Homo sapiens: one gene and its partners. The protein of the gene in region 1 interacts with the protein of each later gene in a pairwise test. Each region holds a gene or a part of one and is shown in the gene's direction. Other genes may lie near its edges. The genes, in order: HCK, CTAG1A, NOTCH2NLA, CYB5D2, NOTCH2NLC, CCDC88B and BPIFA1.

Region 1 (3,500 bases):
GAATGTTGCTCTGCTGATCTCCCAGCCGTCTCTGGATCAATGGCCTTTCTTTCAGGCCTCATGTTCTCTGCTGTAAGGCACTTCACTTGCCTTACTCACTATGCCTGGCACTTAATAAGTGTTCAAGAAAATGGAAGCATGAACCTTTTGAGGGAACAATAACCAATATTTTCATGTATCTTTATGTAGTCTTTTCTATGCACTTTTAAATTAACATAATTAGTATAATGCTACACATAGATTATTTTTATCCTATTTATTTGCTTAGTATTACATTGTAGCATTTTCCAGGTCATTAAAATGTTCTTAAATTTTTAGTGGCTGCATAATATTCCACTGTTTGCCTGTATTATAATTTGCTTAACCTTTCTAGCAGAGCAATCTTTTATATAGTTCAAAATTTTTAGAAATATTTTAATCGAGGTGAAATTCACATAACTTTATAAAATTAACTATATGATTTTTAAAGCGAACAATTCAGTGGTATTTGGTATATTCACAATGTTGTACAAACACTACCTGTCAGTAGCTCCTAAACATTTCCATCACCCCTGAAAAAGGAAACTTTGTACCCATTAAGCAATTACCCCCCATTCCCCCGGCCCCTGGCAACCACCAATCTGCTTTTTGCCTCTACGGACTAATTTATTCAGGATATTTAACATAAATAGAAGCATACTATGTGACTTTCTGTGTCTAGCTTCTTCCACTTAACATAATGTTTTCCAAGGTTCATCCACATGGTGGCAACTATTAGTACTTTATTCCCTTTGTGGCCAAATAATATTCCATTGTATGGATATTCCACAGTTTATTTACCCATTTATCCACAGATGGAAATTCAGGTTGTTTCCACATTTTGACCATTGAAAATAATACTGCTATGAGCATGCATGTGCATACATGTATTTGTTTGAGCACCTGTTTTCAATTCCTTTGGGTATATACCTGAAGTAGAGTTACTGGGTCATATAAAAGTTCTATCTCTGTGGCCGGGTGCGGTGGCTCACGCCTGTAATCCCAGCACTCTGGGAGGCTGAGGCGGGCGGATCACGAGGTCAGGAGATGGAGATCATCCCGGTTAACACGGTGAAACCTCGTCTCTACTAAAAAAATACAAAAAAATTAGCCGGGCATTGTGGTGGGCGCCTGTAGTCCCAGCTACTCGGGAGGCTGAGGCAGGAGAATGGCATGAACCCGGGAGGCGGAGCTTGCAGTGAGCCGAGATCGAGCCACTGCACTCTAGCCTGGGCGACAGAGCGAGACTCCTTCTCAGAAAAAAAAAAAACAGTAGTTCTATCTTTAACTTTTTGAGGAACTGCTATGCTGTTTTCCACCATTTTACATTCCCACCGTAATATACAAGGGTTTCAATTGGCTTCACATCCTTGCCAATGCCTACTATGTTTATATTTTATTAGTATTATTATTACCATTCTAATGGGTACAGAAAGCACGAATCTTAATCTCATTCAAACCAGGCTGCCCTCTGAGGGCTCTTACCTCAGAAAGTAAGGAGAAAGTTGTCTACATTCTAAGGACTAGCCAGGGCTTGGACTTTAAACTCTTCTAGAAAGTAAATTCTACAAGAGCACAAACATGTTTGTCCTATAAACCACTGTATCTTCTAACACCTGGCACCTGGCACATAGTAGGGCCTCAAAAAAACACTGATGGGACAAACGCAATGAATGTTGGACAACCTCCTCCCTCCCTTGCCTGAGATATTTCAGCTGCCCTCCCCGAACACCCCTCCACCCGCAGCGATTATTTTTAATTAGTTGCTAACATTTAAACTCAGGAGAGCTCACATAATCTGGATTTCTGTCTCCTAAAACATTAGAAGAGTTAGCAGCCCTGAGACTAGAACCCACGACTCCAGTGCTCTTCAGACAACCTCAGTGGAGCTGGGGGCTGCCCTGGGGGCTACACCTGGGCTGTCCAGCTTGCACAGCCCTTGCCAGGCCCACTTTCCTCATCCGCAGAACCCTCCACATCCCTATAGTCATTTGAGTTTTCAAACCCCACCCTTCGGGTCATGACAAGGCTTCCTTTTTTATAGAAAAGGAACATGAAGGGCTGGGTGCGGTGGCTCACCCTGTAATCCCAGCACTTTGGGAGGCCGAGACAGGCAGATCATCTGAGCTCAGGAGTTCGAGACCAGCCTGGGTAACATGGCAAAACCCTGTCTCTACAAAAAGTACAAAAATTAGCTGGGTGTGGTGGCACATGGCTGTAGTACCAGCTACTCAGGAGGCTGAGGTGGGAGGATCGTCTGAGCACAGAAGGTGAAGGTTGCAGTGATCTGAGACTGCACCACTGTACTCCAGCCTGGGTGACAGAGCAAGACCCTGTCTCATAAAAAGAAAAGAAAAGGAATGTGAAGCCTAGAGAGGGTAATTGACTTTCCCAAAGTCACACAGCAAGTTAGTAGCACAATCTCTCTCAGCCTCTTTCTTTCTTACATCTTTTTGTTGTTGTTTATTTTTCTTTTTTTATACCACAAGTCATCAAGCAATCACTTCTGCCTTTCTAAACAAACCCCACCACATGCACCAACCACATGTTGGTCCCCACCCCATTTCTCCAGTTTCCTCCCCCACAGGACTGGGAGTTTGAAGGTACTTTCAGAGGCGTGGGTAATGATGCAGAAGCAGCCTGTGCTTAAGTGTAAATGTGCCCTGGTCTTGGCCCCGGCTGTGGTCCCACATGCTGCATCCTCTGGATGGCACTGCGCTAGGACGTGCGCTCCTGACTCTCCCTTCGAGTCACCTCCCTGAGTTCCAGGCATCACCCTGAAATCCTTTGGCCCAGGAGATGTAAGTGCAGCCAAGAGAACAGGAATCCCAGCCTCATCTCTACCATAGAAATGAAGAACAGTGGGTACAGTACAGTAGACGACCCCGAGTCTGAGTGCCAGCTCTGCCAAAGACAGGTTGTGATGCACTAGGCAAATCTCTTCCCTTTCTGAGCCTCAGTTCCCAAATCCAAAAAAAAAATGGAACTGAGGCTGGGCACGGTGGCTCACACCTGTAATCCCAGCACTTTGGGAGGACAAAGCAGGTGGATCACCTGAGGTCAGGAGTTCAAGACCAGCCTGGCCAACATGGTGAAACCCCGTCTCTACTAAAAATGCAAAAATTAGCCGGGCGTGGTGGCGGGCGCCTGTAATTTCAGCTACTTGGGAAGCCGAGGCAGGAGAATTGCTGGAACCCGGGAGGCACGGTTGCAGTGAGCCAAGGTCTTGCCACTGCACTCCAGCCTGGGCTGACAACAGCAAGACTCTGTCAAAAAAAAAAAAAAGGGGGAGAACTGAGGAGGATACTACTCATGATTCCTGCAGCACAATTCCTTTTATGTCAAAACACACACACACACACACACACACACACACACACATACACACACTAGTCCATCATGGCGTATATGTCTTAGTTTGAGTTTCTCCAGAAGCAGACCCTAGGCAAGGTTTCAAATGCAAATAGTTTGAGAGCTGATTC
Region 2 (3,390 bases), on another chromosome or scaffold:
TAATCCTTCTATGCAACTATATGTTTGTCCCCATTAACCTCCCCACCCTCCCCACCTTTCCCAGCGTCTGGTAACCATCATTCTGCTCTACCTCCAAAAGATCAACGTTTTTAGTTTCCACATGAGTGCCAATATGCTTTTCCCAGGTGCAGAGGCTGCTGATTCCTGGATTTGGAAGGTGGGGGAGAGTGGTTTGGATTTCAGTACCTCCCCCTTCCTCAGGGCTAGGCCCTGTCTGGTCACCTCCTGTTGCTACAGGTGTGCCTGGCACAGACATTCAGCTCCCGGGGCCGTGCCGCCCTCACCCCTGCATGCCTCTAGAGGTACCTGTCCCGTGGATTTGACCCCCTTCCAGACACACAAATAGATCACCACTGAGCAGACACAGGGTCACCTCCCAGCTCCCTACCAGGCAAGAGCGACCAGGGCAGGGACTGATACTGCCGAACCCAGGAGCCAGGCCCGACCCAGCCTCAGGTCCAGCAGGTCCCGCCTGTCCACCTGGGCCAGGCCTAGAGCCCGGGAGCCCCTGGCTGGTGGGAGGCCACCCGCAACCCACCCCACACGCAGCTCCAGCTCCCCCACCAGGCGGGGCGACTAGGACAGGGACAGAACCCGTTGAACCCAGGAGTGAGATCCGGCCCCGGGTCCCGCTGGGCCCTCCCGTCCACCTTGGCTGGACCTGGCGCCTGGGAGACCTTGGCTGGCGCGAGGCCACGCCCACCAGACATGCAGTTCCAGCTACCCCACCAGCTGGGCGACCAGGACAGGGACGGAGGCTGCTGAGCCCAGTTAGAGGCCTGCCCCCCGGGGTCTGTCCTGGGCGCTCCCCCAAGGACGGACAGGGCAGGCAGGGTCCGGGACGATGGCCGCACAGTCCCGGCCCCGTGTTCCCAGGCCCGTCTTGCTCCTCGATGTGAGGGAGACCCGGGGGATGGGACAGGCTGGGCCCCGCAGTGCCTGACTCCCTGCAGGGCTCCCGGGACAGGGGTCCGGCGGACAGCCGGCTGCTCAGGGGTGAGGGGTCCAAGCTGGCATTGCGGCCACCTTCCGGCCCGGGCTCTCTTGGGGAGGGGCGGGGTTGGTGAGAACCGGTCACGTGCTCCGGGGCTCACTCGGGGTCTCCCAGGGCCGGAAGTAGGGCCCCTGTGCGCAGGCGCCCTGAGGATCCCGGGCTGCCCATCTCACGCCAGGGGGCGGAACTTCCTGCAGCCTCTCTGCCTCCGCATCCTCGTGGGCCCTGACCTTCTCTCTGAGAGCCGGGCAGAGGCTCCGGAGCCATGCAGGCCGAAGGCCGGGGCACAGGGGGTTCGACGGGCGATGCTGATGGCCCAGGAGGCCCTGGCATTCCTGATGGCCCAGGGGGCAATGCTGGCGGCCCAGGAGAGGCGGGTGCCACGGGCGGCAGAGGTCCCCGGGGCGCAGGGGCAGCAAGGGCCTCGGGGCCGGGAGGAGGCGCCCCGCGGGGTCCGCATGGCGGCGCGGCTTCAGGGCTGAATGGATGCTGCAGATGCGGGGCCAGGGGGCCGGAGAGCCGCCTGCTTGAGTTGTATTCTGTTCTGTTCTGTTCTGTTCTGTTCTGACAGTTCTGGTGGCGAGGTGGGGGCCGGGAGATGGGGAGGGCAGGGCCAGGTGGGGGAGGAGGCGGGGGAGATGCGAGTAAGTGGTTGGGTGGGGGTGGGGGTGGGGGTTGGGAGGTGGGGATATGAGAGGCCAGCTGCGAGGAGGGGAGGAGGTAAGGGCTGGGAGGTAGAGGGGGTGGGGGTGGGGGAGAGGGGCTGGGTGATTGGGTGAGGGGCACCGGGTCATGCGGGGAGGGGAGCAGGGGCCAGGAGATAGGGGGACCCAGGTGTAGGAGGGGATCAGGAGGTGGGGGGAAGGGGGCAAGATGGGAGCGGGTGGCGGGAGGTGGTTGGGATGGAGGGTCGAGTGATGAGGAGGGGGCCGGGTGATGCCACAGGGGGCAGGGTGGGGAGGGGTCTTGTAAGGGCATGGAGGAGTCAGCTTGGGGTGCAGCAAAGGAAAGTGGGGAACCAAGACAGCTGGGTGGGGTGTGCTACTGGGCCAGTGCCTGGGGAGACAGCCTGGGGGGGATGGGCTGGGCAATCCGGGGTAGGGGGGAGGGGTGGGGGAGTGGGGGAGGGGGAAGCTGGCCTGGGGTAAGCAGCAGGCCGGAGCCACAGGCCAAGTCCTAGGAGAGGATGCCTTAACTGGGCCCCCACCAGCTACCTCGCCATGCCTTTCGCGACACCCATGGAAGCAGAGCTGGCCCGCAGGAGCCTGGCCCAGGATGCCCCACCGCTTCCCGTGCCAGGGGTGCTTCTGAAGGAGTTCACTGTGTCCGGCAACATACTGACTATGTCAGTTCAGGACCAGGACAGGGATGGGGCCTGGGTGGGTGGCGGTCACAGCGTGGCAGGGTGGGGGCTGGGATCCGCCTACACCCCACGGTCAGGCTGCTAGAAACCTGGGAACACCCCAGCACAGGGTCTCAGAACAGAGACCTGGTACACCAGGCCCGCCGCCACCCGAGGGAGCCCAGGGAGATGGGTGCAGAGGTGTCGCCTTTAACGTGATGTTCTCTGCCCCTCACATTTAGCCGACTGACTGCTGCAGACCACCGCCAACTGCAGCTCTCCATCAGCTCCTGTCTCCAGCAGCTTTCCCTGTTGATGTGGATCACGCAGTGCTTTCTGCCCGTGTTTTTGGCTCAGCCTCCCTCAGGGCAGAGGCGCTAAGCCCAGCCTGGCGCCCCTTCCTAGGTCATGCCTCCTCCCCTAGGGAATGGTCCCAGCACGAGTGGCCAGTTCATTGTGGGGGCCTGATTGTTTGTCGCTGGAGGAGGACGGCTTACATGTTTGTTTCTGTAGAAAATAAAACTGAGCTACGATTCCGTGTCTGAGTCTCTTTTCGGCGAGCGAAGGCACCTTCGGACTTGCATGCCCTTGTCCTCGGGTTGCAGGGGAGGCTCTGGGATTCACAGATTGAAGTAGCACAAGGTAACGGGAGGCAATTTGGGAAATGGGGGAAAATGAAAAGCCACTGGGTCCCGCCATTCAGCATTAACTACTGTGGACATTTTAGAATATTTTCCTCAATATACTTGCATTTATATGTTAAATATATGACAGTAGCATATATAATGTTTTTCCAGGTCAGCATTAAATTTTTTCCCAAATTGTTTTCATTGAACATATGAGCTTTTTTACTTGGGAAAAATTCTTTGAAAACGTACTTGAATAGATGCATAGAACCAGCATTATCATATCACTGTTAAGCATGTGATATGGGTTGGGCATGGTGGCCCACACCTGTATTTCCAGCACTGTGGGAGGCTTGAAGCGGGAGGATGGCTTGAGACCTGCAGTTGGAGGCCACCCTGGGCAATGT
Region 3 (3,500 bases), on another chromosome or scaffold:
ACAATCTGCAAGAAGGGGCACAGGATTGCTCCTCTCACAAAGACACTTGATAATACTGTCCTTGATAGGAAGAAGGAAGTGGCTTCAGATCTGAAAGGATATGCTCATAGGCTTGAGACGGGACAAACTGCATCACTGGTAGTGGTAGGAGGTTTGCCGTAGATCTGTTTTTTCTCCTGTCTCTCTTTTTTGAGGAGAATATTATCTGTATGGCAGAACATACATTGTGGTCTTAAAAAGGAGAGTAAAGCCAAGAAAGGGGGATGATAAAGCCATAGCTTGGAATAAGAAAAGCAAAGGAATTATTGTATTAATTTGTGTATGTAAATACATAGGTTTCCATGTAATTCACTGGTAGGATCACTAGCCCTTGGCACTAACATTTGCTATCTTTGTAGCTCTGCTGTCTTAGTGGTGTATTGGGGGAGCATTGTGGTGTGTTGTCACACTTAATTTGTGTGCTTCCCTTGGCATCATGTGGTAGCAAGTACAGGGTATTCTACTCTTCTAGATGTGTGGGAATCATTGACCAAGTAGAAAATATGGTCCTGCTCCCAAGGAGCTGACATCATCATGGAGACAAGACAGATAAGCACACAATTAGGAATATGAAATACAGTTATTTTATCATTTATCTATGCTCTCTGAAAGCAGTTTCCTGCAGTCAGGGTGACTCAGAGCTATAGGGTCTTGGGAGTAAACTTCAGGTCTTAATACCACCAGGGAAAGGCGACCTCCAGCTCACCCTTGCTGGGCTTGTCTGCTGTCGTGAGCTGTCTGCCATTTTCCTCTTTCTGTGTTGTAATTTAGAAGTATTAGAACTTGGCTTGGGGAAAAGACAAAAACCCCTTTGTCTGGTGAGGGTGTAAATATAAATTTGGCACATGTTGTGGTGTCTATTATGTCTGTTAGTGGGTTTGCGGCAAGAGAGAGTGCTGTGTTCTTAGTCCCGAATGCCAAGCCTGAACTAGGACAAGTTATGGTGGAAATATCTTCCTTGGAAGATGCAGTTCTCAGTGGCAGTGGCTGAAGGAACTTCTCGTCACAGCCAGGCAGTGACTGAAGTGTGGTGTGGACACACCCAGAGTTGCTGCCTCAGGTGGCATTGATTAATCATACTAATATCTCCCTCACCCTTTTGTACTTGTCTTGGCAAAACCCTGTTCTACTAGCTCCCCAATAGTTTGGCCTTTACTAGGTATGATTGAACAAGCTCTTGGGGGTTCACCTTAGTGTCCCTTGCCCCTCTCGCATTTCCAGCCAGCTACGTCGCTCCAGCCATGGTACCCCGGGTCCTCTGGCCAGGCAGTGAGGGGCTGGGTTTTTCTTCCCATTGGACTGAAGCACCTTTCCCTGGAGGCTTGCCTAGGGCAGTTTCTGGTCTCTGAGTCAGTTCCTTCTGCAGGATACTGGCAGCTGGCAGAACTCTGGGTTATTTGAATACATCAGCCAAACATCTTGCCAAGATGGACTCATTGTTGCATAACGACAGGTTGGATCTATGGGTGTTGCAGAACCTGTTTCTGGGTTAAGAGTAACTCTCTCACCTTTATTATATATGTTTATTCATATGATGAATGTATGTGTGTATTTTGTGAAGTAAGGAAAACATGATGATAATATTGTGGTTGGAGTTAGATACCTTATCCTAAATATGTTGTCTTTTTAACAAATAGCATTCCTTTAAAATACAGTTGTGCTTGATGAATAAGGTGTTGTACAAGAAGCTGTGGTTACATTCTAAAATAAACTGCCTTGTTCTGAGGCAGGCACGTTTTAAAATTGTTGTTTGCTTCTTTTTCATCTCTTTTTATTTTCATCTTTTTTTGTGTGAGAAGATTCTGGAAGTTTTTAAGCCTCAAATATTTTCAATAATCTATTTTAACGGGTACCTAGCAGGGAGAGGTTGTTCTATTGGTATACCTAACCAACATTCAAATAAGAATAATTGAATACTGTTTACTCACTAATCTATTCTGTTGAGTTTCTAAGTATGAATAATCACAAAACTAGATAGTGCTGATATATTAACTTCTCTAAATGGTAAATGTGGTAAGTAGCAAAGACATTTTTGTTTAATTCTCTCCTTACACATGCTTTGGTTCAGACGCTGTCAAGACACATTGAAGTTTGAGGACATGTGTATTTCGATTATTTTATTATATTTTTATTTGCTGTGAATATGGGTTTATTTATTTGCTAGATCTTCTTTAGTTAGAAACATTAAGGGCATTTACTTTATTACAACATTTAAAGTGCATTCTAATCTTCATGAGGAATTTTAGGTAAAAGACCGTATCCTGAGATTCATGCAAGTCTTTGGCATTATGTTACTATTTAAAGTAAGTAATATGTAGTGGCTTCTCTGACATATTCTTTCTAAGAGAGTTAAGGAAAATAGTTGTAACTAAAAGCAAACATTGAAACAGTTTAAGGTAGGTTTACGTAGCAACAGAATTATTCGTTATGTTTACAGATAATTAACTCATATTTATACTTTGCTGATTTTCTCTGGCACCTTTACAAGATTTTTTTATTTTTGTAATATAAAAAGTAATTATGTTTGAAAAAGTAGTTAAGGATGTTTGAAGAATCTAGAAAAGCATAAATAAAATGTCCACAATCATGCTGCCATTAATTTTTTGGTATACGTCTTTGGTTTTTTTACCCTTAGATTTAGAAAAGCTGTTGATTTATTTATATATATATATATATTTTTTTTTTTTAGTTTATGAACAGATCTACATATATATATATGCACACACACATAATATACTATTGTCAACACTAGGTTTTATTTTTAAAAATCTTTACCATTTGATAAGTGGTAAATATTACTTAATCTTAATATGCCTCTCTCATTACAGTGATATTGAATGTTTTTTCATATCATCAGTGGCGTTTGTATTGCCTTTTTTCCTACTTCTTTTGTAAATTGTGTCTTTTACTCATTTAATTATTTTCTTACTGGTTTGAAAAAGCTCTTTAAATATTAAGGGTGTTAGTCTTTTGTCTTAAATATGTCACAATATGTATGGAAATAATTAGCAGTATATAACATAACATCAAATTGCTACCAATGTTGATATAAAAATTGTTCATTTCATAGGTTAATTTTTTTTAATCCTTTGGTTTCTAATGATATTGGTTAATTCATTTGTTAACTGCTATTTTCTGTAGCTACTTGAAAGTTCTTATCTGACTGTATCGTAAATCAGCATGCTTTCAGCTGTATATGTCTAGGAAATTGACATTTACTTTAATACTTAATAAAAAAATATGTTGGAGAAAAGCAGTGTATTCTGGAGTCAAATACATGATTTTGGGTGGGTGACGTAATCGGCTACTGTCCTCCTTTTCTAGATAGCCAAGATTTTTGAAGCATTTAACATCCCTGAAAGGCAGGACTAATGCTATGTCTACCATGCACTGCTAATTCTGACACTTTGACCTAATGGATAAATGCCAGTACAGTGGGTCTAGCCAGTTAGCTTGGTCAG
Region 4 (3,500 bases), on another chromosome or scaffold:
GCTGAAGCAGGAGAATGGCTTGAAAGCGGAAGGCAGAGGTTGCAGTGAGCTGAAATCATGCCACTGCACTCCAGCCTGGGCAACAGAGTGCGACTCCGTCTCAAAAAAAAAAGAAAAAGAAAGAAAACAGATTCTTGAGTGGGGATGGTGTCAGTGGTTTACACCTGGGTCTGATGGAAACATCTCTGTTCCAGGCCGAGACGCATCCAGAGCTTTCGTGACCGGGGACTGTTCTGAAGCAGGCCTCGTGGATGACGTATCCGACCTGTCAGCCGCTGAGATGCTGACACTTCACAATTGGCTTTCATTCTATGAGAAGAATTATGTGTGTGTTGGTAAGTCGTCCATAGGTCATACATTTCATTTGGTTGTCTGCAGTGTTTTTAGGGGGCTGAGATTTTTTAGGGATTGGGTTCAAGCTTAAAATCTGAAAAACAGCCATGGATTTGTTTTACTTTAAATTCTGGTCGTTAGAATAGGGATGAGCCGCCCAGAAGGAGATGGATGGGCACCTGCTTCCCCCACTCTTAGTCTTGGGAGAGGATTACTAAGCTGCTTGCTTTGGCCTCAGTTTCGCCATAGCCAGTGGTTGCTTGCACCATCCTTGAACAACCAGCTCCAGAAGGGCAGCTTCCCTGTCTCACTGTGTTCGATGCATCTGGCTTCAGCACACAGCCAGAAGGGCTTGAAGCCTGAATTTGTGTTTCGACAAATCCCCTTTTATTTGGTCCTCTAGGAGGAGACAAACTTCGTGAGTGAGCTGTCTCCCAGGTGGTAGTTATGCTAATCAAACCACTGTGTAGGTTACTGCACTTGCTACTTACTGATGCTACATAAGGGACTTGCTTCTCAAATGAGACAACACCAAACTGTGTCCTAAAGCAGTGTTAAAGACTCTAAACACTAGGCCCGGCGCAGTGGCTCACGACTGTAATACCAGCACTTTGGGAGGCTGAGGCGGTTGGATCACTTGAGGTCAGGAGTTCAAGACCAGCCTGGCCAACATGGTGAAACCCTGTCTCTACTAAAAAATACAAAAATTACCTGGGCGTGGTGGCACGCACCTGTACTCCCAGCTACTCAGGAGGCTGAGGCAGGAGAATCGCTTCAGCCCGGGAGATGGAGGTTGCAGTGACCTGAGATTGCGCTACTGCACTCCAGCCTCAACGAAAGACACTAAACACTAGATTGCTTCACAAGTACTGACAACTGGGATGGCCGTAGCCCTTTCTTCTATCTATCTGCAGCCCCCACGTCTCACTGGAGTCCTACTTGGACATGACTGACTTCCTGAGGAACACCAGTATCACTTCACCATCGAAACAGGTCTAACTTGGAAGAATTCTTTCCTTAATGCCTCTGAATTTCTGCTTCTGTCATCACTGCTTGAGTTACCTTTTCTGAGAACCTTGGCATTTTTATTAACACCTCAGCTCCCTCCACATCCAATCAATCATGGCTTTTTCATAATATCTAAAGTTTGTGTCCATCCATTGTGGGCCTCTGCAGCACGCCTTTCTTCATTTTCTCTCGTATGCCCAAGATCAGTCTTGAGACCATAACCCTGTCTACCATCGAAGGCACTGACCTCTACTCACCTGCGCTTCAGAGGGCTGGGTTCTTCCCTTTCCCAATGAAGTTGCCAAACCAAGGTTGAAACATTACTGGGTTAATAAAGAAAAGAAAACCCAATAGAAAAGAATAAGAGCCAGGAGTGGTCTCTCACACCTGTAATCCTAACACTTTGGGAGGCCGAGGTGGGCGGATCACCACCTGAGGTCAGGAGTTCAAGACCAGCCTGGCCAACATGGTGAAACCCTGTCTCTATTAAAATACAAAAATTAGCCGGGCATGATGGCAGGTGCCTGTAATCCCAGCTACTCAGGAGGCTGAGACGGGAGAATTGCTTAAACCTGGAAGACGGAGGTTGCAGTGAGCCAAGATCGCACCACTACACTCCAGCCTGGGTGGCTGAGTGAGACTCTGTCTCAAAAAAAAAGAAAAAAAAGAAAAAGAATAAGAATGGAGTCCAGACCGGTGGCTCATGCCTGTAATCCCAGCACTTTGGGAGGCTGAGGTGGTCGGATCAGTTGAGGTCAGGAGTTCAAGACCAGCCTGACCAACATGGCAAAACCATGTCTCTACTATAAATACAAAAAATTAGCTGGGTGTGGTGGGACACACCTGTAATCCCAGCTACTCAGGAGGCTGAAGCATGAGAATCACTTGAACCTGGAAGGCAGAGGTTGCGATAAGCCGAGATCACATCACTGCATTCCAGCCTGGGCAACGGAGTGAGACCCTGTCTCAAAAAAAAAAAAAAAAGAACAGAGTCCTGTAAATGGGCAAAGAATGCCAGGCCAAATACTTCATACTAAGATTTGGGAGCACACTGGAAGTGTTCGGATGCGTTTGGTGTGACAAGTGAGCTGGTCTTGTTTGAATGATGTATAATGTGTTGAGGATGGGGTGGGGCATGTGGCGGGAAATGCCTCAGAAGGATTTTAGTTGATGTCAGGATCTTATTGAATACCTACTACTCATAAGTTACGGGTTCCATCCTCAGGGGGACCAGGGATGAATTGAGTCCAGTTCCTGCCCCTGTTAGCTCATTCTGTAGGATAGGGGCCATGTTAGGCTCTTTCAGGTTACCAGAAACCCTCAGGATACATCAGTGGATGAAGGTTTATTGTAAGGGTACATACTGAAGTGAGGACAGCCAGGAAGCCATCTTGGCAGCCAACATGGCCAGGCCTCAAGGGAAAACAAGATGGCCTTGGTTATGCTGTGGATACAGGATTGGCTTGGAGATGCAGCCACTGGTGATCACCATTCTCATGACACAGATTCTAGAACTCTTCCTCTGTTGCCTCTGCTACTACTGTCCTCTCTTTGGGTCTCATGTCAGAAACTCACCAAAGACAGGCTTGTCACCATATAACACAGACACCCCAACCCCCGTAGTGGGAAATTCTGTGCCAGGCCAACTCATAGACTGCAGGCCTGTGACTCGGGCCCTGATTCCTTTCTTTATTCATCTAATAAGTATTTAAAATGAATGCTCTATGCTAAGCTGTTTTATTTATTTATATATTTTTTCAGATGGAGTCTTGCTTTGTCACCCAGGCTGGAGTGCAGTGGCACGACTGCAGCTCACTGCAACCTCCAACTTCTAGGTTCAAGCAGTTCTCCTGCCTCAGCCTCCTGGGTAGCTGGGATTACAGGCATGCACCACCACGCCCAGCAAATTTTTGTATTTTTAGTAGAGACAGGGTTTCACCATGTTGGCCTGGCTGGTCTCGAACCCCTGACCTCAAGTGATCTGCCCGCCTCAGCCTCCCAAAGTGCTGGGATTACAGGTGTGAGCCGCTGCGCCTGGCGCTAAGCTGTTCTGAGTACTGCGCCTCACTAGTAGAGAGAGCCATCATAGACAAGTAAACAGATTGAACAACTCCACATAGGACCATGCATCAAACTGTGATGTAATACGTTTGGGAGCT
Region 5 (3,500 bases), on another chromosome or scaffold:
TCAAATCAAGCTGTGATTTGGATGGGGCATTGTATTTTCCTCAATAAGCACAAAGAAGAGAGAAAAGATGTTTTCACTTGGCAAAACTTTTTTTTTTGAGATGGAATCTCACTCTGTTGCCCAGGCTGGAGTGTAGTGGCACAATCTCGTCGGCTCACTGCAACCTCCGCCTCCCGGGTTCAAGCAATTCTCATGCCTCAGCCTCCCGAGTAGCTGGGATTACAAGCGTGCACCACCACCCTGGCTAATTTTTGTATTTTTAGTAGAGCCAGGGTTTCACCATGTTGGCCGGGCTATTCTCAAACTCCTGACCTCAGATGGTCCTCACACCTCAGCCTCCCAAAGTGCTGGAATTACAGGTGTGAGCCACTGTGCCCAGCCCACTTGCAAAACTTTTTAACATTTATAAGGTTTTTTACATACTTGATTTTGTTCAGTTCTTAGAATAATCTCATGATGTAGGTGACCTTATTAACTATTTACAATGTGAGAAAATGGATAGTCAGTGAAGATAAGTAACTTGTCCAAGGTCACAGCACCAGAACTCCAAACCAGACCTTCTGACCTTCTTGATACAGACTCCTCACAGTCACCTGCATGCCATCTTTGGTTTCAGTGCTATGAACTTTCTTCACTGCCTGTTGGTCTGTAGCTACACCTACTCATGAAGATGCCCAGAGCCTTAGCCGCTCCTTGCTCTGCCATGCTTATCTTATGCAGCTCTGGGAGGGGTGAAGAGGCTGTGGCCAGTTACCTCACTACCACTATAGCTATTCACCACCCTGTTTTCTCCTTTAGCCATTTTAGCTACTACACAATTCTTCTGGGCATTTTCTGTCTTAGTTCCCTAGTATCTGGCCTTCCTTCTTTTCTCAGTAACTGTGACCCCTGCTAGCTAGCCTTGCCAACCAATGGTTAATGAAAGGTCTTGGATATGACTGTCAAAGACAAAAGCACTCATGACCCCAATGTTTCAGGTCACAATGATTAGGAAAATCAGGACAACAAGGCTTGGGCACAGAAAAGCTGGTTTTTGAGAGGGGGATTTAGAGTTTGGTTTAAATGTGTAATCTTTGAGGTAATGGTGGAACAGCCTACTAGATTCAGTTTTCTAGTCCCTGAAAACTAAAACGAGGAATAAGTTGAATCACATATTTGGGGCACCAGCCAAATATATAGCAGCATTTATAGTTAGAATCAAAGTGTTTGTGTTTCTTAATTTAAATGCTTCTCAGAGATTCCATTTAAACAACTTCATTATGAAAATGGAGACTTACCATGCCTTTTTGATATTGTTCAGAGAAAATTGTCATAAATAATACACACAGTTTGAAATGGTTGTACATCTTATGAATCAAGGGGTGGCATGTAAAAAGGTTCCTCAGTGCCTCAATGTGGAAAATATCATAGAATGTTATTCTTCAATTGATTCCTTCCTTCACTTTGGTGTTTATATGGTATCTTAGATATTTTATGTTATTTAATTATATTTTGTGCCTTTTTATTTGGTTAAAAATGCCTACTTAAATATTAACAGATTTTTAAATATCCCTTTGAACTCTTCCCCATTCCTGTACCTCCTTTCCCTTTTTCTGTTGTAATGTCAGCCACCTGAACATAACCCAGAAAACTAGGTATCAGCCAATTGATGTTTCAGTGGAAATAAGAGAAAGAAGCACTTACTATTTCTCAATGCTTAATTGAGGAAAAGCACATGATACCTTACATATTTTAAATTGGAGGGGATAATAGGGTCAAGTTCATGCATTATATTGTGGACATCTTAATCCTATCAAATGGCTTAGTCAAAATGAGAAAGTTAATGAATTTAAGCAGACAAGTACGAACAGTGCTCTAAAAAAGGTGCTGTTACACCATCCCAACCTGTACACACATGAAAAAAAGCTGGGGTGCATTTTGCGTTTGAATAAGGGTCATGTTGACTGGCCATGGCAGACCCTGCTAGACCATACAGCTGATACTCTGTCACCTGCCAGGACTCAAAAGGACATGGGAGTATGTGGTTAAGTTCTCTAAGGACTCTTTCTTCTAAAGGGAAGCAGTTTTATAGGTGGTCCTTGTAGGTCTGTTGATTCACAATCTCGTGCTTTCTTGATTGGACTGTATTGTTTTACTGTAATTTTTTGGACTTACAAGAAGTCAGGTGTTTTCATGGACTCTTCTCTTTTCCATACAGATGTCCAGAAGGCTTCTTGGGGGAATATTGTCAACATCGAGACCCCTGTGAGAAGAACCGCTGCCAGAATGGTGGGACTTGTGTGGCCCAGGCCATGCTGGGGAAAGCCACGTGCCGATGTGCCTCAGGGTTTACAGGAGAGGACTGCCAGTACTCGACATCTCATCCATGCTTTGTGTCTCGACCTTGCCTGAATGGCGGCACATGCCATATGCTCAGCCGGGATACCTATGAGTGCACCTGTCAAGTCGGGTTTACAGGTAACTAATGAGACCAAAGCCAGTGCTTTCCTACCTTCAGCAGATACCTTTATTTAGCATCTTTTAGATCATGGTATCTGGCTCTTAAATGTCCCCCAGCTCTGGTGCACATTTAACATTATGATAAGGAACTGGGATGTTCCAGACAACTATCCCTAACTTCCTTTTAAGAGTTTCAGGGGGCAGAGAAAGAGAAAGAAAAAGGACCAAATACTTTGACTGCTTAAAGTATATATGTCAGGGCCAGGTGCGGTGGCGTACGCTTGCAATCCCAGCATTTTGGCAGGCCAAGGCAGGAGGATCACTTGAGGCTAGAGGTTTGAGACCAGCCTGGGAAACATAGCAAGACCCCATCTCTACAAAAAAACAAGAATAAAAATAAAACAAAATTAGTCATGTGTGGTGGTGTGCACCTGTAGTCCTAACTACTTGGGAGGCTGAAGTGGAAGAATTGCTTGAGCCCAGGAGTTTGAGGCTGCAGTGAGCTATGATCGCACCACTGCACTCTAGCCTGGGTGACAGAGTGAGACCCTGTCTCAAAAAAAAAAATATGTACACCAGGATGGGGAATCAGAGTTTACTTCACTAAAAGAAATAAGTACACTGTCACCAGAGGAAAAGTTGCTGATGTTATTGACTATTTGCTTTTAGAAATCTCCCTCCCTAGACATTCAGGGCACTGGCTTTTCTGGTTTTCTGAACCCTGTTCCTTTTGCTTCTTCATTACCTTGTTCTTATCCATTAAATGTTTGTGCTCCCTGGAGCACTGTTTTTCGCCCTCTTTTGAGCCACATCACAGCTCTCCCTAGGGAATTTCACTGTCTGTATTCGCCTCCACTGCCACTGTCTTCATTAGCTTGCTGATGAATCTCACCATCATTCCCTTAGCTCCACCCAACCCTGACATTCAGGCTCATGTTTCTAGCTATCCTTTGTATGTTCTCCTTGGAGATATTCTACAGGTACTTTCAGCTCACCTTGTTGACAGAAATACGTAGCAACCATGTACATCCCAAATACCCACGCTAGAAACTCCCTGTCCC
Region 6 (3,500 bases), on another chromosome or scaffold:
ACTCCTGCCAGGGACCAGCTTAATGCCCTGCGCCGCGAGAAGCAGAAGCTCGTGGAGAAGATCATGGACCAATACCGCGTGCTGGAGCCTGTGCCCCTGCCCCGGACCAAGTGAGCAGCCCTGTCACCTCCCTCAGGCTGGACATCCTGCTAACCTCTGCCCCTGCCCTGGCCTCTGACCCCAGGCCCAGCTCAGGTCCAGGCCCCATGAAGGTCAACCTGGCCTTTGACATCCCCAGGACACCCTTTGCTCCCTCCCTCCTCCCTGTCCTGACCCCCTCTTGTGCCCTCTTGCCCCCAGGAAGGGCAGCTGGCTGGCAGACAAGGTGAAGAGGCTGATGCGGCCCCGGCGGGAGGGGGGCCCCCCTGGGGGGCTGCGCCTGGGGGCCGATGGGGCTGGCAGCACCGAGAGCCTGGGGGGCCCCCCGGAGACGGAGCTTCCTGAGGGCAGGGAGGCAGATGGGACAGGTGGGTCTGGGGGTCAGGTGGCCAGGATGGTCCCTGCCCCACATCCTCTGTCCCCCACCTTGGCACCTGCCTCACTGCCTGGCCTGCATGCGTGACCCCATTGGCCTTCCCTGAGGCCTGCCCCCCCTGCCCTGATGCCACCAGGGGCTCTTTTCCCTGGGTCCTACAGGGTCACCCTTGGCCCACACCTCCCTCCTGCCTGTGCTGTCCCCGACCCAGCCTGCCCCATCCGCAGCGGAGCCCAGGATCTGGGAGGTGCAGTGGACTCTAGGGAGAGGTCATTGTTCCTAGACTGCAGATGAGGAGACTGAGGCCCCGGGAGGGGAAGCTTTTGCCCAAGGTCATGCAGTGAGTTAGTATGAAGGCCAGCACAGGGCCAGTGTCCTGCTGCCCCACTCATTTGCCTGGCTTCTCCCCCACCTCTGCACCTCCCCTCCCTGGCCCTGGGCAGCTTCACCCACTGGCCCCTCTACTCCATCCAGGGCCCTGTTCCTCTGACCCCCTCCCTGCATGAGCCTCCGCCCCCCCCCTCTGACCCCTCCCCTGCATGAACCTCAGCCCCCTCTTCTGACCCCCTCCCTGCATGAGACTCAGTCCCCGTTCCCTTCCTCTGACCCCCTCCCTGCATAAGCCTCAGCCTCCCCCCCTCCTCTGACCCTCTCCCTGCATGAGCCTCAGCCTCCTCCCCTCCTCTGACCCCCTCCCTGCATGAGCCTCAGCCCCCACTTCCCTTCTCTGACCTCCTCCCTGCAGGAGCCTCAGCCCCCCCGCTCCCCTCGTCTGACCCCCTCCCTGCATGAGCCTCAGCTCCCTCTCCCCTCCTCTGGCCCTCTCCGTGCATGAGCCTCAGCCCCCACTTCCCTTCTCTGACCTCCTTCCTGCAGGAGCCTCAGCACCCCCTCCCCTTGTCTGACCCCCTCCCTGCGTGAGCCTCAGCCTCCCCCCATTCTCTGACCTCCTCCCTACAGGAGCCTCAGCTCCCGTCCCCTCCTCTCACCCCCTCCCTGCATGTACCTCTTGCAGGGTCCCCTTCCCCGGCACCCATGCGCCGGGCCCAGAGCTCCCTCTGCCTGCGGGATGAGACCTTGGCAGGCGGGCAGCGGCGGAAACTCAGCTCAAGGTTCCCGGTGGGGCGAAGCTCTGAGTCATTCAGCCCTGGGGACACCCCTAGGCAACGATTCCGACAGCGCCATCCAGGCCCCCTGGGGGCGCCCGTCTCCCACAGCAAAGGTGAGGGACAAGGGTCACTGTACCAGCCAGCCCCCCAACTCTTTGTGGACCCACCAGCTCCTTGGGGGAGGAGGCTTCCTTCTTGTCCCCTGTGTCTCCTGCAAGCTCTGTCCACTTCCGCACTGGCCCTGGGCCCAGTGGTTGCCTTGTGCCTCCCAGGACCTGGTGTGGGATGGGAGAACTCCGCTGAGACCCTGCAGGAACACGAAACAGATGCCAACCGAGAGGGTGAGTGGGGGACTGTGGAAGGAGTAGTATTCTTTGTCCTGCCTGGGGCCCCTGGCAGAACCTCATTCATCCATTCTTTCATTCGACAATGATCCTTTACCAAGTGCCAGGTGACGTGCTGGCAGGGGACACAGCAGGGAACGTTCTGGTGTGAGGAGGCAGATAGTAAACAATTTGCCTAAAAATAATTATTATCTACAACAGCCCTGTCCACTAGAAATATGGTGTGAACCACATGATAATTTTAACTTTTCCAGTAGGCTTACCAGAAAAAGTGAAAAGAGACAGGTACAATGGATTTTAATAACATTTAACTCAATATGCCTACGCTATTACCATTTCAGCATGTAGCCAGTGTAAAAATCATGAATGAGCTATTAGACGTGATGTTTTTTTTTTTTTTTTGAGATGGAATTTCACTCTTTGGCTCACTGCAACCTCCTCCTCCCAGGTTCAAACGATTCTCCTGGCTCAGCCTCCCAAGTAGCTGGGATTACAGGCATGGGCCACCACGCCAGGCTAATTTTGTATAATTATTATTATTTTTTTTAGTAGAGACGGGGTTTCACCATGTTGGTCAGGCTGGTCTCGAACTCCTGACCTCAGGTGATCCGCCCGCTTCAGCCTCCCAAAGTGCTGGGATTATAGGTGTGAGCCACCCAGCCAGACGTGATTTTTTTCATAGTAAGTCTTTGGCAGTTTCGGAGGCCAAGGCAGGCAGATCACTTGAGGCCAGAAGTTAGAGACCAGCCTAGCCAAAATGGTGAAATCCCGTCTCTACTAAAACTACAAAAATTAGCCAGGCATGGTGTCCCATGCCTGTAATCCCACCTACTCAGGGGGCTGAGGCAGGAGAATCGCTTGAACCTGGGAGGCAGAGGGTGCAGTGAGCCAAGATCACGCCATTGCACTCCAGCGTTGGTGACAGAGTGAGACTGTCTCAAAAACAAAAAACAAAAAACAAAAAAACATAGTAGGTCTTTGAAGCACGTCACAGGCCAACCCCATCTCACCTACTTAGCTCCGCCCTGGGCAGCTCAGCCCTAGACCCGGCTGGACCATCAGGAGGCGCTAATGCTCTGGGAAGAAAGGAGAGCAGGGGAGGGGTCAGGAGCTCAGGAGCTCTGGGCAGGCTGGTTGGAGTTTTAGTAACTGGGGTGCTGGGGTGGGCCTCAGAGAGGATGTGAAATTGGAGCAAAGACTTGGAGGGGAGAGTTTGTCGTGTGGACATACCTGAGAACAGCATTCTGGGCAGAGGGAACCGCTGAGGGAACAGCAGGCGTGGTGCAGCTGGAAGCGGGGGGTATTGGCAGGTCGGGGGTGGGCAGAAGGTGCTCGAGCCTGTGGGCCTCCTGGGACTCTGGGAGTCCTCCTGAGGGAAGCAGATCTCAGCTGAGCCTTTCCCTCTAGGCCCTGAGGTACAGGAACCGGAGAAACGTCCCCTCACCCCATCCCTCAGCCAGTGACACCGTGGGAACAGCAGGCTTGGGAGTGCAGCCTTCTCGGCACTGGAGTGTCAGCGGAGGCCCCAGGCAGCCCAAGAGCTCAGGGAGCCAGGGACCCCAAGGGGAGTCC
Region 7 (3,977 bases), 1.2 Mb from region 1:
AGGACAGCCTGGCCAACATGGTGAAACCCCATCTCTACTAAAAATACAAAAACTTTGCCAGGCATGGTGGCGCTCGCCTGTAGTCCCAGCTGCTCAGGAGGCTGAGGCAGGAGAATCACTTGAACCCGGGAGGTGGAGGTTGTCATGAGCTGAGATCACACCACTGCACTCTAGCCTGGGCGACAGAGTAAGACTGTCTCAAAAAATAAAATAAAATAAAAATTAAGTGAAAATTTAAAAAATAAAAAGGGACGCATGAAAGTGTAAAGTTCACAGGTGGGGAAATCAAAATGGCCAGCAAGTGTTGGGAGGCACCTTCATCTCTCAGTGCAGTGATTCGGGGAAAGGACCTGAATGTGGATGTCTCACCCCAGGCAAGCACTGCATCTCTGGACAACTTGCCTCACACTCAGCCTCAGTTTCCCCCTTATAGAATAGGAGTACAGGGTTGTGAGGATTTTGTGAGATGCTGCCTGTGAACACCATGGCAGGCCAGGCATACAGCAGGAGCTCGGCCAGTGTCTGCTGTTGGCGTTGTTTTTGTTGTTTTCATTCTCCAGTCAGTTGCATTCTAACTCTGCTGCATCCTCTCTGGGTCTTTCAGCACTTGTCCCCACTGGATCTCAGTTTCCTCCTCTATAAAAGAGGAGGAGTCACCTCTCCCTCTCAGGGTTCTTGTGAGGACAGAGAGCTCCTGACGTGCAATAGGGGCTCTGAAAACAGGAGACCCTTGCCCTGGAATGGAGACGCACCCCAGATGTAGGATGCAGTGTGACTCTTTTGACATTTTAGGAGAAAGAATCCTCCAACTGGAGCAAAAAAATTAGAGCAGGAGAGGAAAGGGGCCAAGAGATGAGACTGAGGTCCCTTCCTGGGCTCTGTCTGGCTGCTCCTTTCAATGCTCCAAGCTACCTTGGGAGCGTGGGTCCCCAACCTTGGCTCCGCTCAGGAAACCATAAAGTCTTGAGTAACATCCCATCTCAGGTTTTTCTCTGTTTATCTTGTTGACCAAATAGCTTAACTGTCTCACCTGCTAATGTGATTGGCAATTATTTACTTTGGAGAGCCCTGAAAGACACTGTCAGATTGCAGAATTCTCAATTATCTAGAAACCCATCACCCAACACATGCTTCCTCGTCCCCATACTATAAAAGAGGCTGACTCCTCGGCAGAAGTGAGTGGGGGAGAGAGAGGAGACCAGGACAGCTGCTGAGACCTCTAAGAAGTCCAGGTAAGAGCCATCCATTCTGTGGCCCCTCTGCTACCCTTAACGGCAGGGATCTCAGGCTCCTGCCCTGTGGGGCAGTGAGTGATCTTGATCACTCACTGGGGGCTGTGCAAGAGAAACAGACCTGGCCAATGTCAGGGATGTGGGGATGGCCATTTGCTCTGCTGTCCTAAGAGACCAGTAACATTGATATAGAAATGGGCACTATTAATGCCGTAAATGAAAGCCTCTAAGGCATAAGTTTTAGCTTGAGGTTACCAATGTGGATACAGATGATCCAAAAACCTCCTAAAATTCTTCACCCAATTTTATACATTTTGATGCATTTTTTCTGAGACTAGGATCTTTAGCTTCCATTGGATTCATAAAGGGTCTGTTGCCCAAAAGAGATTCAGAGGCTGTGGTCAAAGTTACCTCCCTAAGAAGGGCACAACTGGCTCTTTGGACCAAAGACCTTTCATTTCCAGCCTTCCACCACAAGGATGGAGCTTTAGCTGAGTCAGCCAATAGATGGAATTTTGCACAAAGTCACCAGTTGTCTCCAAATTGTAGGTACTAGTGCTGGCTCTGGACAACTCTGCTGGCTGCCAAATAGACCTGTGAGAGGTCTGCAAGCCAAACCTCAGGGGTTGACCGGAATTCCATCCAGGGCAGCTTGAAGGAGAAGAGAAAGGTGTCAAAATGATAGAATGCATGTTTGTGTGTTGGGTGAGGGGAGGGTTGGGAGACCTGCCTTCAACCACAGCTCTGCCATCAATTTATTGTATGACCTTGGGAAAGTCACTACCCCTCTTTGGTCTCCTGGTTCTTCTCATGCAATGAAGACTTTGATGGCCCCAGGAATTCCCCAACAAAGGTCTACATGAGATGGTGGCTGTGGCCATGCGACCCCTGTATTGTGTGACTTTCAAGGGCATCCACCAACCATCATGGCCTGAGCTCAGGCCAAAGGACTGAACAGGGATGATCTAAAACAGTTCAATTCTTCAGCACTTGCACGTTTAACCCTTCTCATTTGCTTTGTCTGAAGAGCAGCAATGATTCAAACCATTGAAGCAAGCCCGATTGGAGAATAAATCTGATGGTTACTTAATTTAACCGAGGGTTCACCTGGCTCTAGCTTCTAATCCTCTGTCCACCGTGTACTTGTGACCTTGGGGAAAGTTACCCACACTCGGTAGTACACAAGTGGGTTTCAAGAAGGGATGGGAGTATATTTGAAACTCCCAACTGCAAACTCACTTGACCTCTGTGAGCCTTGGTTTCTCCTACTGGAAAATCAGACAAGTGAACTGTGGGCAAGATGGAGTGAGGTGAGGCTGGGATTCTTGGCAAGAAGGAAAAAAACCCTCTTCTTTGGAATGTGGTGGAGTGGGGCTGTCTCCTTTTTAGGCCCCTGATCAGTGGTCCTCACCTGTGCAATGCAGGTAACAGGTGCCCATGTCTTAGGGTTGTGATGAAGATGAAATTGTGTAAAGTGGTCAGCCTGTTGCCTGGCAAAGAGAAATTGTTCAGCAGTATTAGCTATTACTAGTGACCCCCTGGTGTTCTGGGGAGCAAACAACCCCACCCCCCAGGTGTCAGGGCAGGTGGTGGATAAATTCCTCTCTGATACCCATGCCATGTTGGACTTGTCATTCTGGCCACAGATACTAAGAGCAAAGATGTTTCAAACTGGGGGCCTCATTGTCTTCTACGGGCTGTTAGCCCAGACCATGGCCCAGTTTGGAGGCCTGCCCGTGCCCCTGGACCAGACCCTGCCCTTGAATGTGAATCCAGCCCTGCCCTTGAGTCCCACAGGTCTTGCAGGAAGCTTGACAAATGGTGAGTTTTCAGGGGTGTATGTGTGCATGTGTGTGTGTGTGTGTGTGTGTGTGTGTGTGTGTGTGTGTGTGTGTGTGTGTCCAACCCTGCAAAGTGGGGAGGGACAGGGCTGGATGGGGGAGGGGGCCTGAGGATCTGGAATTGTCAGATCTGACCCCCAGAGACCCTTACACCCATTTCCAGCCCTCAGCAATGGCCTGCTGTCTGGGGGCCTGTTGGGCATTCTGGAAAACCTTCCGCTCCTGGACATCCTGAAGCCTGGAGGAGGTACTTCTGGTGGCCTCCTTGGGGGACTGCTTGGAAAAGTGACGTCAGTGATTCCTGGCCTGAACAACATCATTGAGTGAGTTGTCCTAAAATAGAGCTTTGATCTCCACCAGGGAACCCCAGGTGAAGATCTGCCAGCCCCAGGCAGTGACCCTGAAGCAGCGACCCTGAAGCAGCGAGGGAGCGGCCTGAAGATGGAGCCAGGACTCAGTTCTGAGACCCATCTCCAGTTTGGCAGGGACACCCGTCCTCCCCAAACCAGCAATGCCCTCAGTTCTAGGCATGTCCTGAGGCCCCAGCATCATCTATAATCCTCACCACAACCCTTTGAGGTCGATTTAATAATCTCCAGTTTGCAAATGGGAAAACCAAAGCACAGAGGTGCCTGTGTTCACGCTGCTAGAGTGATGCCAAGTGAGTAAGGCTCTCACTCTACTATCCTAACTCCAAAGCCAAGGCTCTTCCCACTACACTGTGGTCATTTTGTTCTCTGCACCTGTGAAATCCCTTAGAACACAGACGGCCTTTGATGTTAGCGAGAGTATAACCTGCCCACCTTGATGATATCAATGTGATGAAAAACAGTGTGATGTCCATGGAAAGGTCTAACGTGGAGTTTCCCATGAGACACCCAAGAGCTCGCAAAGCAAAAAGCAA

What was found.
Region 2: the proteins of HCK (region 1) and CTAG1A interact in binary tests that used the Homo sapiens proteins (3 or more experiments, as listed by UniProt).
Region 3: the proteins of HCK (region 1) and NOTCH2NLA interact in binary tests that used the Homo sapiens proteins (3 or more experiments, as listed by UniProt).
Region 4: the proteins of HCK (region 1) and CYB5D2 interact in binary tests that used the Homo sapiens proteins (3 or more experiments, as listed by UniProt).
Region 5: the proteins of HCK (region 1) and NOTCH2NLC interact in binary tests that used the Homo sapiens proteins (3 or more experiments, as listed by UniProt).
Region 6: the proteins of HCK (region 1) and CCDC88B interact in binary tests that used the Homo sapiens proteins (3 or more experiments, as listed by UniProt).
Region 7: the proteins of HCK (region 1) and BPIFA1 interact in binary tests that used the Homo sapiens proteins (3 or more experiments, as listed by UniProt).

The regions. Positions count from the first base shown.
Region 1 is NC_000020.11:32,055,242-32,058,741, forward strand, and holds part of HCK (tyrosine-protein kinase HCK), read left to right. Parts: intron 1-3,500. UniProt on the Homo sapiens protein: Non-receptor tyrosine-protein kinase found in hematopoietic cells that transmits signals from cell surface receptors and plays an important role in the regulation of innate immune responses, including neutrophil, monocyte, macrophage and mast cell functions, phagocytosis, cell survival and proliferation, cell adhesion and migration.
Region 2 is NC_000023.11:154,583,927-154,587,316, forward strand, and holds CTAG1A (cancer/testis antigen 1), read left to right. Parts: upstream 1-1,206; 5' UTR 1,207-1,280; coding exon 1,281-1,549; intron 1,550-2,225; coding exon 2,226-2,360; intron 2,361-2,599; coding exon 2,600-2,738; 3' UTR 2,739-2,890; downstream 2,891-3,390.
Region 3 is NC_000001.11:146,219,022-146,222,521, reverse strand, and holds part of NOTCH2NLA (notch homolog 2 N-terminal-like protein A), read left to right. Parts: intron 1-3,500.
Region 4 is NC_000017.11:4,149,697-4,153,196, forward strand, and holds part of CYB5D2 (neuferricin isoform 1 precursor), read left to right. Parts: intron 1-194; coding exon 195-335; intron 336-3,500. UniProt on the Homo sapiens protein: Heme-binding protein which promotes neuronal but not astrocyte differentiation.
Region 5 is NC_000001.11:149,453,121-149,456,620, forward strand, and holds part of NOTCH2NLC (notch homolog 2 N-terminal-like protein C), read left to right. Parts: intron 1-2,197; coding exon 2,198-2,457; intron 2,458-3,500. UniProt on the Homo sapiens protein: Human-specific protein that promotes neural progenitor proliferation and evolutionary expansion of the brain neocortex by regulating the Notch signaling pathway.
Region 6 is NC_000011.10:64,353,704-64,357,203, forward strand, and holds part of CCDC88B (coiled-coil domain-containing protein 88B), read left to right. Parts: intron 1-11; coding exon 12-110; intron 111-300; coding exon 301-467; intron 468-1,490; coding exon 1,491-1,697; intron 1,698-1,856; coding exon 1,857-1,925; intron 1,926-3,335; coding exon 3,336-3,391; 3' UTR 3,392-3,500. UniProt on the Homo sapiens protein: Acts as a positive regulator of T-cell maturation and inflammatory function.
Region 7 is NC_000020.11:33,234,819-33,238,795, forward strand, and holds the start of BPIFA1 (BPI fold-containing family A member 1 precursor), read left to right. Parts: upstream 1-1,177; 5' UTR 1,178-1,232; intron 1,233-2,878; 5' UTR 2,879-2,893; coding exon 2,894-3,053; intron 3,054-3,236; coding exon 3,237-3,396; intron 3,397-3,977.